Homo sapiens: one gene and its partners. The protein of the gene in region 2 interacts with the protein of the main gene of each other region in a pairwise test. Each region holds a gene or a part of one and is shown on either strand. Other genes may lie near its edges.

What was found. The genes of interacting proteins can lie anywhere in the genome.
Region 1: the proteins of KCTD9 (region 2) and PSMB2 interact in binary tests that used the Homo sapiens proteins (3 or more experiments, as listed by UniProt).
Region 3: the proteins of KCTD9 (region 2) and SLAIN1 interact in binary tests that used the Homo sapiens proteins (3 or more experiments, as listed by UniProt).
Region 4: the proteins of KCTD9 (region 2) and KIF9 interact in binary tests that used the Homo sapiens proteins (3 or more experiments, as listed by UniProt).

The regions. Positions count from the first base shown.
Region 1 is NC_000001.11:35,624,527-35,628,026, reverse strand, and holds part of PSMB2 (proteasome subunit beta type-2), read left to right. Parts: intron 1-3,500. UniProt on the Homo sapiens protein: Non-catalytic component of the 20S core proteasome complex involved in the proteolytic degradation of most intracellular proteins. This complex plays numerous essential roles within the cell by associating with different regulatory particles.
Region 2 is NC_000008.11:25,427,434-25,430,933, reverse strand, and holds the end of KCTD9 (BTB/POZ domain-containing protein KCTD9), read left to right. Parts: intron 1-960; coding exon 961-1,077; 3' UTR 1,078-3,087; downstream 3,088-3,500. UniProt on the Homo sapiens protein: Substrate-specific adapter of a BCR (BTB-CUL3-RBX1) E3 ubiquitin-protein ligase complex, which mediates the ubiquitination of target proteins, leading to their degradation by the proteasome.
Region 3 is NC_000013.11:77,746,187-77,749,686, forward strand, and holds part of SLAIN1 (SLAIN motif-containing protein 1), read left to right. Parts: intron 1-327; coding exon 328-669; intron 670-3,500. UniProt on the Homo sapiens protein: Microtubule plus-end tracking protein that might be involved in the regulation of cytoplasmic microtubule dynamics, microtubule organization and microtubule elongation.
Region 4 is NC_000003.12:47,265,800-47,269,299, forward strand, and holds part of KIF9 (kinesin-like protein KIF9), read right to left. Parts: intron 1,465-3,500; coding exon 1,381-1,464; intron 1,270-1,380; coding exon 1,177-1,269; intron 79-1,176; coding exon 1-78. UniProt on the Homo sapiens protein: Essential for normal male fertility and for progressive motility of spermatozoa.

The DNA of each region.
Region 1 (3,500 bases), on a different chromosome or scaffold from region 2:
TATGGTCACACCAGTTGGCAGATGTGACTCATTTTGGGTCAGCCAGTTACCATGTATAACTTCTGTGTCTGTAGCTCAAATTGTTTGATTTCTAATTTGCTCTGTGTATGTGTGGTGGTTTGGTTGGGAGGACATTTACTACCACTGAGTATATAATGAATCTTACATAAACTGGTTCATTAAAATGTAGGCAATTTAGCATTGTGGTTAAGAGCATAGTCTCTGGAATTGGACTACCTGGGTTTGAATATTTGCTTACTGACTTACTAGCTGGATGTCTTTGGACAAATTCTAAGCTTAATTTCCCTACTTACCAATTTCAAAAAGTTATTATGAAGATTAAATAAGGTAATAATGCAAAGCTCTTACTTTTTTTTTGAGACAGGATCTCACTCTGTCATCTAGGCTGGAGTGCAGTGGTATGACCACAGCTCTCTGCAGCCCCTTGACCTTTCAGGCCCAGATGATCCTTCCACCTCAGCCTCCCTGGCAGCTGGGACTGTAGGTGCATACCACTATGCCTGGCTAATTTTTTGTAGAGATGGGGTTTCTCCATGTTGCCAGGCTGGTCCCGAACTCCTGGGCTCAAGCAATCCTCCCGCTTCTGCTTCCCAAAGTGCTAGGATTACAGGCATGAGCCACCATGCCCAGCCCACTTGTGTTTTTATGCTGCGATTGCTGTTTGGTCAAAGAAGCAATTTAATGGCTATAAGTTAGTTTTTCGTGAGGGATCATTTGTTGTGCTTTTTTTTTTTTTTTTTTTTTTTTGAGATAGGGTCTCGCTCTGTCACCTAAGAGGTGGCACAGTCACAGCTCACTGCAGCCTCAACCTCCCGGGCTCAAACAATACTCCCACTTCAGCCTCCCAAATAGCTGGAACTACAGGCGCCAAGCCACCATGCTGGTATTGATAGGGAAAATAGAAGTAAAATAACATTGAACATATATTATGTGCTAGGATTTTTCTAGATCTACACAGTCCAGTATGGTAGCCAACTAGCCACATGGGGCTATTTAAATTTAAGTTAATTAAAATTAAATAAAACTTAAAATTCAGTTTCTGGTGGAAAATCTCCTGGTAGACTTTGCCTGAATGCTAAATCAACTTTTGTTCTTAAAAAAAAAAATTCTGTTCCTCAGTCACAGCCACATTTCAGGTACCCAATAGCCACAACTATTGTATTAGACATCACAGATCTGGAACATATCCATCATCATAGAAGTTCTCTTGGACAGTGCTATTCTAAATACTTACATATGTATCTGTTATTAAGTATCCTTATTATGACACCATAAGATGTGTGTTATCCCCATTTTACTTACAAGGATGTTAAGTATTTCTCTTAGATATGTTTCCAAAGCACATATATACTATGTTAAAGGTTAAGATTCCAGCTTCAAATATCAAACTCTTTCATGGTGTCTTCTTTATTAATTAGTGGACTAATGTACAAGTGTATTTGTGCATTTAGGGAAACATGAAATGTTCAGTTTTGTTAAAATGTCGAAATTGCACATAGTATTATATAGATAAGTTTGAATATATGTCCATTGTAGGTTTTCAATAAGTGTTTGCTGAAAAAGTGTCATCCAGCTAGGTCTATATATTCTGCTGAGAATATTAATTATGCATTTATACACTGGAAGGGAATTCTTAATGAATGGAATACCGGAAGAAGTATTCTTAATAAATGGATGTTAATTTGTATAGGAATTAAAGGCATGAAATCATCAGAAGACGAAAAAAGACAGATGGGGAAAAAATTCAGAAGCCTTCAGTTTAGTTGTTTATTTAAATGCTTGTATACATTTAAGATGGTCTCTTCTTGTTGGTTAGACCCCAAAGAGCAGAAAAAGGGCTTATACTATGCTCAAGGCTTGCTTTCTTCGGCCAGGCACAGTGGCTCATGCCGGTAATCCTAGCACTTTGGGAGGCCAAGATGGACAGATCAGTTGAGCCCAGGAGTTCAAGACCAGCCTGGCCAACATGGTGAAACCCCATCTCTACTAAAAATACAAAAAATTAGCCAGATGTGGTGGCACACACCTGTAATCCCAGTTACTCAGGAGGCTGACGCAGGAGAATAGCTTGAACCCAGAAGGTGGAGGTTGCAGTGAGCTGAGATCATGCCACTGCACTCCAGCCTGGGTGACAGAGCAAGACTCTGTCTAAAAAAAAGGCTTCCTTTCTCAAATTCTCCTTACAGTTTGACTAATGTCAGAGGATGATGAGTTATGGGGCTATTTCTTTTCTTTTTTTTTTTTGAGACGGAGTCTCACTGTGTCACCCAGGCTGGAGTGCAGGGGCACGATCTCGGCTCACTGCAAGCTCCACCTCCCGGGTTCATGCCATTCTCCTGCCTCAGCCTCCTGAGTAGCTGGGACTACAGGCGCCCGTCACCATGCCTGGCTACTTTTTTGTATTTTTAGTAGAGACGGGGTTTCACCATGTTGACCAGGATGGTCTCGATCTCTTGACCTCGTGGTCCACCCGCCTTGGCCTCCCAAAGTGCTAGGATTACAGGCATGAGCCACCATGCCCAGCCTATTTCTTACTTAAAATGAATTATGTGGCATATTTGATGTAGCCCATCTGAATGCCCTAAAATTATCTCCATTTAACAGATAGAGAGACAGGTATAAACCAGGCAAATCTGGTGTCCTTGGGAACGTGAAATTTTGTGGCAAGGCTTAGAGTAGGATGCTGGCCTCCATGATGTGTAATCGTCGGGTTTCACTGCCACACTGGCCAAAGAGTTTTCATTAGAACTTTTTCCGAAGTGTTTCATGAGCCTTTGGTAATTTATCTTTTTACCTATTTATTTGTAAATGCTTAGCAAGTAAACAGTAGAAATAATAAGTTGAAAAGATATCCAGCCTGATGTAGTGGTTTTCAAACTTTATTCTGTGAAGCTGCTTCAGGATACTCACCAAGGAAGACCAGTGTGCAATGCTTTTTTTTTTTTGAGGTGGAGTTTCGCTCTGTCACCCAGGCTGGAGTGCAGTGGCATGATCTCAGCACACTGCAACCTCCACCTTCCAGTTTCAAGTGATTCTTCTTCCTCAGCCTCCCGAATAGCTGGGACTACAGGCGTGCACCACCATGCCTGGCTAATTTGTGTATTTTTAGTAGAGACGGGGTTTCATCGTGTTAGCCAGGATGGTCTCGATCTCCTGACCTCGTGATCCACCCGCCTCGGCCTCCCAAAGTGCTGGGATTACAGGCGTGAGCCACCGTGCCTGGCGTTTTTTTGTTTTTGTTTTTGTTTTTTTTGAGACAGAGTCTTGCTCTCTCACCCAGTCTGGAATGCAGTGGTGTAATCTCGGCTCACTGCAACCTCTGCCTCCTGGGTTTGAGCAATTCTCCTGCATCAGCCTCCTGAGTAGCTGGGATTACAGGCATGCATCACCATGCCTGGCTAATTTTTGTATTTTTCATAGAGACGGGGTTTCACCATGTTGGCCAGGCTGGTCTCCAACTCCTGACCTCAAGTGATCTG
Region 2 (3,500 bases):
AGCTCGAATCCTGGAGGTGGAGGTTGCAGTGAGCCGAGATTGCACTCCAGCCTGGGCAACAAGAGCAAAACTCCGTTTCAAAAAAAAAATTGTGTGTGTGTGTGTGTGTGTGTGTGTGTGTGTGTATTTATTATGTTGGAATCCATTCTGTATTTTAAATCAGTGGTCCCCAACCTTTTTGGCACCAGGGACTGGTTTTGTGGAAGAAAATATTTTCACAGATCAGAGTCGGGGGCTGGTTTTGGGATGATTCAAGCGCGTTACATTTATTGTGCACTTTATTTCTACTAGTATTACATTGTAATACATAATGAAATAATTATATAACTCACCATAATGTAGAATCAGTGGGAGCCCTGAGTTTGTTTTCTTGCAACTAGACAGTCCCATCTGGGGGTGTTGGAGACAGTGACAGATCATCAGGCATTAGATTCTCATGAGGAGTACCCCACCTAGATCCCTCACATGTGCAGTTCACAATAGGGTTCACGCTCCTGTGCGAATCTAATGCCCCTGCTGATCTGACAGGAGGTGGAGCTCAGGCTGTAACTTGAGCCATACAGGGACTGGCTGTAAATACAGATGAAGCTTCATCTACTGGTGACCTCCTGCTGTGTGGCCTGATTCTTAACAGGCCATGGACCAGTATCAGTCTGTGGCCCAGGGGTTGGGGACCCCTGTTTTCAATGTCTCCTTATAAAATATGCAAGAACAAGGGACATGCTTCCTCTTTAACCTTTGTTTATACATATTTATGGTGATCAGCCTGAACTAGAGGTAACAAATAAAGATAGAAGAACATCTTAATTTAGGGTGGTGTATCATCAGTTTTCCGGAAATTAACTGAGTTTTATTGTATAAGAACATTTTCCTAATCTGCCCCAGAAATCATTTTGAGCAGAAATAGATAAGGCCTGAAATTTCCACATGAATTACATGAATATTGTTTTCATCTTGCAGAATTGTGATCTGTCTGGGTGTGATCTTCAAGAAGCCAACCTGAGAGGGTCCAACGTGAAGGGAGCTATATTTGAAGAGATGCTGACACCACTACACATGTCACAAAGTGTCAGATGAGAATTTTAGGGGCTGGAGGAAGATGTAAAAGATGAAAATGTTTTCCTTATCACTTTTCTTTCTCCACCCACTCAGTTGTCTAGAAGAAATAACACTGTAAGGAAATTTAAAAAAAAAACATTTAGAGGATTATGCTTGTTTTGAGTGGTGCATAAGGGAAAAAACTGACTTTTTTTCCATATTCTGATTTTTAACAGAAAAGCACTCATTTAATAGATGTAGGGAAACTAGATATTGCTGCCTTTTGAATGGGGTAGGGGGGTTTACCTGGTTTTATGACCAGGCATAGTATCTATTATATTTGCTTTTAAATAGGCATGATGTGGAAATACCATCTTGGTTTGAGATGCATTTGAGGATTTTAATTTATGGAAAGCACAACATATGCAATTATATTTATTGAATTCCTAGATGCAGTATGGATATTTAAATTGTTAAAACTTTATGAAAACTTGGAAAAGGTTGTTCAGGTTTATAAATAGCTTTAGTGATGCCTCCCCTCTTTAAATACCTGTCACACCGTATGAATATGGTGAGATCAGACTCCCTAAGACTCTTTTCAGGTTCATTTTTATAATGTTTACTTTTTAGGACAGAACAGTAGCTAAATTAAAGTAATATCCAGTTCTTACTGATTGAGACAGAGTGGAAAGAAAGACATCATTGTACATCACTGTCATTCCAAAGGTACAGTGTAACTCTGGATGGAGGAATAACTTACCTATCACTACAACACTTACAAATGAGAATTTCTCAGAATTTCATTCTAGGCAAGTTCCACTCAACACCAGATCAAGCAATTCTATCTATTTACACTATTAGCCTAGTTTTCTCATACAGTCATCACAAGCATAGGAAGATACTTCAAAACCAAAAAAACCAAGGTGCATCATTAATATTCATTTAATTCAAATACCAAATAGTTTACATAGGGCCAGCTTAGAAATAGATACTAAATCCAGAGCTACTGCAATCAAAGCTTATATGAGTGAATATGGTAGAGTTGCCTGCTAAAAGGCAATGTAATATAATTGCAGCTAGAACCCTACAGTGGGGAATGAGGAATTTTAAACACACATTTGATTACAGCCACCAAAAAAATAGACGTAAAAATAAAGGCATTTGGCTGGTCCAAGATGTAATTATCAATCAGTCAGCACCTGTGATTCTTTTACTTATTTTTTTGTGGTTTTTTTTTTTTAAACAAATTTTAGCCCAATTTTCTTGAGTCATTCTCTCTCTGCAGCAGCAGAGGAAGGGCCTGTACCTCCCTACCAATGACTTGGTGTCCTTATTTTCTACCCCAAGAGCAGGGATATTAGCTGTGTCCAAATGGGTTCTGAATTCTACAGACTCATCAACATGAGGCAAGGAATCATTGAAAACCACCTGTGTCTCCTTTGGGAGAATGACATATCTTTAGTATTTACGTAGCTTATTCTTCTATATCTACATATGCAAAGCTTTCCTTAACAGTAAAGGGTACATATGCATAGTGGGAGGAGATCAGACCTTTACAAGTGAAGGAAAGCAACTTCAGAAATGAATTATTTTCTTTGCTTTATTATTTTTACCAAGACAGAGAAGTATTGTATTGAGAGATAATCTATTTTCATAATCAATATGTGCCTAAATTATATTTAAATCATTTCACTCTGTACTATATTTTCAGGAATTACAGAATGTGGTATTCATTCACTTAAAGGTACCTCTGTAGAAATAACCTAAAACTGCAGAAGGATCTGAAAGATCTAAACATGGTGTGCTTAGAAACTGCAGATTTTAGATCTAATGTATACTGCATTAATAAATGATATAAAGTGTTTGTTGAAAAGGAGTTTCTTCTCTTCCTTTTGAAAATCATCACTTTCTGTATTTTGCTTACATTTCTTCAATATGTGTTGACAACCAGCCCTGTGGTTCTGGGTAGCAAAGGAAATACAGTATAACTTAATTTGTTATGGATTAGTCTTTTTGAAAGTACCATTAAAGTAAATTTATTTCTTTAAACATGATTATTTTTATCATTCTTTTAAAAATACACCATGCTAACAACACAAACCTTATGAATTCTGAACAAAAGAAAAGACTGCCTCCCCAATAATTCGTTTAATTTGTTTGTGTTAAATTCATCACTCTTTAGGTGATGAATATTACCAGTTAGCTTTATTAGACTGGATAAATAGCATGCCCCAAAACATTTTTTGCCTGATAACTAGGATAGAGAATTTTAAGGAGGGAAGAAACCGTTAAAATAGTAAAACTTCCATTAACCCTAGAGATGAAACATGTCTGTACACATAGGTAAAAATACAGCTGTTGGGATGACAGGAAAAAGGTTTTAAATCAAAATTAAACTAGCTGGATTATCTGCATTAATAAAATTTGGTACTCAACTAAGCAATACTATCTATTGTAGTCTA
Region 3 (3,500 bases), on a different chromosome or scaffold from region 2:
TTCCTAAGTTCCCCTTCTAAAATATCTCTTGATTTGAAAAGGGGAAATTGATAGATATTAACGAATGAGCTGTGGCAGGTATATATAATCCTCACTGGAATTGGGGCAATCTTTTTGCAAAACAGAATTGTCCAATATTAGATATCTGTTTCATAGGTAAATGTGATTATTGTCTTGGTAAACTTGTCAATTTAGTAAACTTGAGAACAAGATAATAAGTCTCTGTGAGTAATTTATTTGGCACAATTTTTCATCTAATACTTGGTTAATTATAACTAAATGTTAGCTAGATCAAAATACATTAGAGTACTATTTGTTATTTTATAGGTCTCAGGCAAGATTATGCTTCTACTTCAGCATCTGTATCAAGACATAGTTCCAGTGTGTCATTGAGTTCAGGAAAAAAAGGGACATGTAGTGATCAAGAATATGACCAATACAGTCTGGAGGATGAAGAGGAATTTGATCATTTGCCACCACCTCAGCCTCGTCTTCCAAGATGTTCCCCTTTCCAAAGAGGAATTCCCCATTCACAGACTTTCTCCAGCATTCGGGAGTGTAGGAGGAGCCCCAGTTCCCAGTATTTTCCTTCAAATAATTACCAGCAGCAACAGTATTATTCACCTCAAGCCCAAACTCCAGATCAGCAACCAAATAGGACCAATGGAGGTAGGTTGTATGCTTTTTTGGTATTTGATATGCTTTAATTTTTTTATATGTGGTCAAGAAATGGTTTTTGTGTTTTTGTTTTTGTTTTTGAGACAGAATCTGTCTCTGTCTCCTAGGTTGGAGTGCAGTGGCACGATCTCAGCTCACTGCAACCTCCACCTCCTAGGTTCAAACGATTCTCCTGCCTCAGCCTTCCAAGTAGCCGGGGTACAGGCATGTGTCATTATGCCTGGCTAATTTATTTTTTATTTTTTATTTTTTATTTTTAGTAGAGATGGGGTTTCACCCTGTTGACCAGGCTGGTCTTGAACCACTAACCTCAGGTAATCTGCCCGCCTTAGCCTCCCAAAGTGCTGGGATGACAGCCACCATACCCGGCCAAGAAATGGTTTTAAGAGAAATATAGATAATTGGTCAATGTTTCTCAGATTAAAAATCATCCTCCAGACCTTCTCAGTTTGGTCTAAATTTGCGTCTCTAATTGACTGGCTTCTGATTACGTGTCCCAGATTTATAAACGCACAGCCTCAAGAAAACCTTCATGACATAGCTGGCTCGGAATGAGTTATAAATGTGCGGCATCTCTGCATTGTTGCTGGTGCCTGTGGCAGAGGCAGGGTTGTACAAGCTGAGAAGTTTGTGGTCAAGCCCATGGAGGCAAAGTCTGTGAGTTGTCATTCCTTACCTTGTCCACAGCCTTCAGTCTCTTACTGTCTGTTCCTAGCACAGAGTGAGGTTGTAAGCATGAATGATGATGCTTGCAGAGGATGCTGCTCTTACACAGCCAGATCTAGGCAAGTTTGGGATGTGTCTTTCCCTCTGATCTCCTGACATCTAGAATTAAGATCTGTGTAGCAGCAGGAACATGGAGGTTGCTTTCCATTAGCATTTGACAGGGTAATGGGAAATTGATCTGTCTTGTCAACATGGTGGGTTGCTGTCTGTGTCATTCGTTTATTCTATCTCTTCATCATTTATCTTTCTTCCACACTTGCAGAAGTTGGACTCTGACTTCTAAGAACTATGGGAGAAGCAATCATGTAATATTCTAAGCCTGTTGTGTTTTTGTACTAATGATCACCTGAACCCTCACACATAAATTCTATATATTATGGAGAAACAAACCAATAAAAAAATTTATAATTATACAATTACAGTTCTTAATTATTATATAGCACTATTTCTCAAAGCTGGGTCCAGATGTGATCAAATGGTCTTTAAAAATATTTATAGGCCAAATATAAATTTTGTATTAGTGATCAGCCATAACCCTGTATTTAGTTTTTACCCTTTCTTCCTTTATACTGGTATCATTCATGCTGATGCTAATTAAGAGATCATTTGGAAATATTTAAAATTTTGTATTTGTAATTTCTCTTACTACCTTGAGATTTCAAGTTTAAAGGAGTGGTGGCTAAAAAATGTCATCATGACTAACATATTAAAGCTCATAGATCAGAAAGACAATGTATTCCATGTGCTTAGTGGAAGTCATAACATCTTATTAAAATTGAGAGGGCACCTAGAGTTATTTCTCTAAAGCTTTTTTTTTTTTTTTTTTTTTTTTTTACTTAAAGTGTTTTAGAACATCGTAGTCAAGTTGCCAAGCAGATGCTAGCTCTGCATCTTGATTGATATTGTCAATGGGATCATTTTTCTCCGCTTAGCTGTTTGTTGCACCTCAGAAAAGTGGTATTCACTTCCATCAAACACCGTTTGAAAAGGATTAGGTTTCTGTGAATCCTGTGCTGGGATACTCTTCACAGGAAAGTGGAGACATATCACAGTTTAGGTCCCTTTATGGTAGTTTTATTTTGCCTAAAATGTCTAGTTTTCACAATACAAGAAAAATGGAATACAAAGGCAATCTTCTGGATATGACTTCTGACTAATTAGCTTAATGGTTGAGAGCAGAGGCTCTGAAGTCCAGTAGATCCTGTGTTTCTCAACTGTCTAAGGTTCGGTTTCCCTAACTAAAATGTGGACAAGATGATATCTGTCTCTTAGGAAACTTAGGTATAATTTCACACCAAACCATCTGGTACACATTTTCTCCACCTAAATATATTATAAGGAATAAATGAAATAATGAATGTTACATTGCATGTAGCCTGGAGTGGATGTGCTAAATAAAGGTTGTCTTCTCCCCTTTTGTTTTTAAACTTTTATTAACATATGATTCAGATGTCCTAGCCTGCATTTGTTACTATAGAATATTGAGCAAAAAACTGAAATAAGAATGGTAACTTTGAAGCTAATCTATTAAATATTTTTCTAAATTATCAAAATAATATAGATAGAAAATAATTGTAAACTGTTGATTCATTTTAAAATAATTGAGAATAAACTAGAAATGTATATTAATATTTACTGCTTTTGTAGTTCCTACACTGCCTAGATTTAAAGAGATGGTTCATAAAACTTTCTGGGATATTTCTGAGATTCATAGAATTAAAAGAAGCATAACTGGAATAACTTGCTAAATATCAAAATGACTCAACTTGTAGAATCTTTACCAACTTTTTTATAATTCTACGGTATGGCAGGGGTTACTGGAGGCATGATGTAGTCCTTATTATCATGAGGACCTCCCCTGGAGCCTGTGTTGCCTGGATGCCTAGATCTAGCTGTTTGGTGGACAATGAGTGTCTCCTTTAGTCCTAAAGATTCCTGAGTCTTTGTTCATAGAGTGATGAGTCTTGCTGCCTCTTTAATGTGAGCAAGCTCATTTGAATTCTTTACTTGGTCTATTCTTCCAGTTTCCTGCTGCATCTCAGCCCTTGAAGATTAAACTGCTGATTTCTTGTGAAGATAGAACTAGAACATTACTT
Region 4 (3,500 bases), on a different chromosome or scaffold from region 2:
AAGGGCAATGATGGCCTGCTCCAGGAATGAGAGCGATTTGTTGATGTAGGTGGCTTCCTTCAGGACTTGGCCCTCAGACTACAAAGCAAAGGTCAGTTCCACTTTGGATGGAATAAAGCAGCTGCCCCACTAAGAATAGCAGTCTTCCTGGTCTGGAGAAATGCTATAAGTCTGTGGTCAGGTCAGCGCCTCCTTCCCAGAACCAGGGTCTTCTTTCAATGTCATGCGATTGTATTCCATCTTGGGCTAATAATGGTAATACCAAAACTCAGAAATATTCATGTGAACACTCATGTGAATACTCATGCGAATGTGAATGCTTACATGAATATTCATATGGACATTCACTCAAAGATTCACACTAATATGAATATGTACTGAAATACTTGTCTAGATATTTGAGCAAAGAATCCTGTGAATATTCACACAAACACTCATGAATGCACATACAAATGCTCATCTGAATACTCTTGTTAATACTTCTGCTAATACACTCATACAAATATTTATTTGAAATACTCATGCAAATACTCATACGAATACTCATATTCATTCACAAAGAAGCCAGGTGTGGTGGCTCACACTTGTAATCCCAGCACTTTGGGAGGCCAAAGCAGGAGGATCGCTTGAGCCCAGGAGTTCAAGTTCAGCCTTGGCAACATAGCGAGACCCCGTCTCTACAAAAAAATTTAAAAATTAGCTGGTCATGGTGGTGCATACCTGTGGTCCCAGATACTTGAGACACTGAAGTGGGATGATCACTTGAGCCTGGGAGGTCAAGGCTGCAGTGAGCTGTATTTGTGCTACTGTACCCCAGCCTGGGAGACACGGCGAGACTGTGTCTCAAAACAACAACAACAAAAACACACACAGAGAAATGCTATACCAGCAAGGAATATTTACTGAGCACTGAGTGCCAGGCACTTTGCTAAGAATGTAGAGGGCACTATCTCATTTAATGTTTACAAAAATCCTCTGAGGTAGGAACCGCCCCCAGGTAATAGCCGTTCCCTTTTTGCAAATCCTGTCCCTCCAGCAAGCCCACATGTCCCACTTCGCCTAGCTCAGGACTGTGTTCACAAATATCCAATGAGTCATGGCCCAGATGTGCAGGCACTGTGCCAGAAAAAGGGCTTGTGGTTTATTGAGTAGCAACCTCCAGCCCCCATCACTTACCCCAGACTTCCCCAGCCTCTCTGAGCCTGCCAGATCCACCAAGTTAATTTTGGAAGTGATGTACTTTTCCTCTGATAAGGTCCGGGAATGGGCCTACAAAACATCCAAGCAGAAGTTAGACTGTCACAGGGAGAAGTTTCTGACTGAGCAGGCCCCGTGGGAATTGACTGCCCCGCCTGGGCTGATCAAAGAGCTTGCACCTACCTCTAAGTAGATGGTGAAAATGCAGTGTGATCTGGAAGAGTTTTTGTTCATAGTGTGGGAGGCTATAATCCTGTTGGTCTCACCCTGAAGAGGAAGGGAATCATAGGCAACATTTCGAAAAACTAAAACGACAAGGCACTTGGGTCATTTTTCAATTATACCAATAGCTACACAAGTGGTCTCATATCACTGCGATCAGCTGGGCCTTCCAGGCAAACCTCTTTTATAAACTAATAGAAAGGGAGTCAAATTGGAGTCCACATCTACACTTTCACCCGCCGCTGGGGAAGTGTGAATTGGTATAGCTTTCTGGAAAGCAAAGTGACAATAAAAATCAAGAGCCTTAAAAATGTTTATGAATATTGAATCAGAATCAACCTGCATGTCCAACAATTTGGGAATGATCTATGTATACAGTGGGATATTGGGCAGCCAGGAAAATGCTGACACATAGTTTTTAATAACAGAGAGAAATGTAGAATCCAAAATCATATTATAGCTGATCTAAGAAATGCAAAAGCATTCATAGAAGAAATAAGCAGAATTCTGCTAATAAGATGTTAATAATAGTTGCTTCTGGGTTGGGGTTTATAGGTTATTTTATCTTTTTTATACAGTTTTGTGGGTTTTTTTTAGTGAGCATGTATTACTATAAAAATAATAATTTATATTTTTATTTATTTTGTGTTCTCCTTTTTTTTTTTTTTTTTGGGAGAGCATCTCAGTCTGTCACCCATACTAGAGTGTGGTGGCACGATCTCGGCTCACTATAACCTCTGCCTCCCGGGCCCAAGCCATCCTCCCACCTCGGCTTCCTGAGTAGCTGGGACTACCAGCGTGCACTACCACACCTGGCTAATTTTTGTATTTTTTGTAGAGACAGGGTTTCACCATGTGCCCAGGCTGGTCTGGAACTTATGAGTTCAAGAGATCTGCCCGCCTCGGCCTGCTACAGTGCTGGGATTACAGGCATGAGCCACTGTGCCTGACCTAGTAATTTGTATTTTTAAAGGGACAGTAGGCCCTTACCTCTAATTTACAGGAGGAGGCCTTATGACCAGAATATACTTAAAAAGGAATTTTTTGTAGAGACAGGGTGGTGGTGTGGTGGAAATGGCTGTTCTTGGAGAAAAAGGTCCTTGAGGGATAGACTGATGTCTCCTTAAATGCTGATGAGAAGTGCTATGAACAAGCCCCAAAGTGAGGGTGGGGGACAGCCCCCCCTGGGGAGAGGAGAGCACCCGCTGAAGAGGGAAGGCCTGAGGCTGTGGAGCAAGCCTAGCAGACTCCTGTGGCCATACCTCTATAGCTTATAGTAGTGAGGCTATAGTCTATGGTCAGGCCTGTTCTACAAATCCAGTGACACTCACCAAGAATATAAGGGGTCACTTCATTTTTCTTCTTCTTTTTTTTTTTTTTTTTGAGATCATTCTCACTCTGTTGCCCAGGCTGAAGTGCAGTGGCGTGATGTTGGCTCACTGCAACTTCTGCCTCCCGGGCTCAAGTGATCCTCCTACCTCAGCCTCCCAGGTAGCTAAAATCACAGGTACAGGCCACCATGCCAGGCTAATTTTTTATATTTTTTTGTAGAGACAGGGTTTCGCCATGTTGCTCAGACTGGTCTTAAACTCCTGAGCTCAAGCAATCCTCCTGCCTTAGCCTCCCAAAGTGCTGGGATTACAGGCATGAGCCACCACAGCAGGTCATTCACCTTTACTCTTCAGTCCCCCTTCTGAAGTACCCTCTTGCCTTGTCTTTCTTTTTTTGTATTTTTAATAGAGAGGGGGTTTCACCATGTTGGCCAGGCTGGTCTCGAACTCCTGACTTCCAGTGATCCGCCTGCCCCGGCCTCCCAAAGCTCTGGGATTACAGGTGTGAGACACCGCGCCTGGCCTTGCCTTGTCTTTCTGGCCCTTTAAAAAAGATCCTGCTATTGACGTTGAGGAAGTAAGTTGCTATGTTGTGAGAAGGCACTATGATCATGCCTGTGAATAGCCATTGCACATGTGCCCATTGCCTGGGCAACACAGCGAGAACTTGCATAAAAAAATAAAGAGTTCCTAGCCTATATGACTTCTAAAAGAATAACATACACTTGACTGATTTCTTTTCTTGTTTTT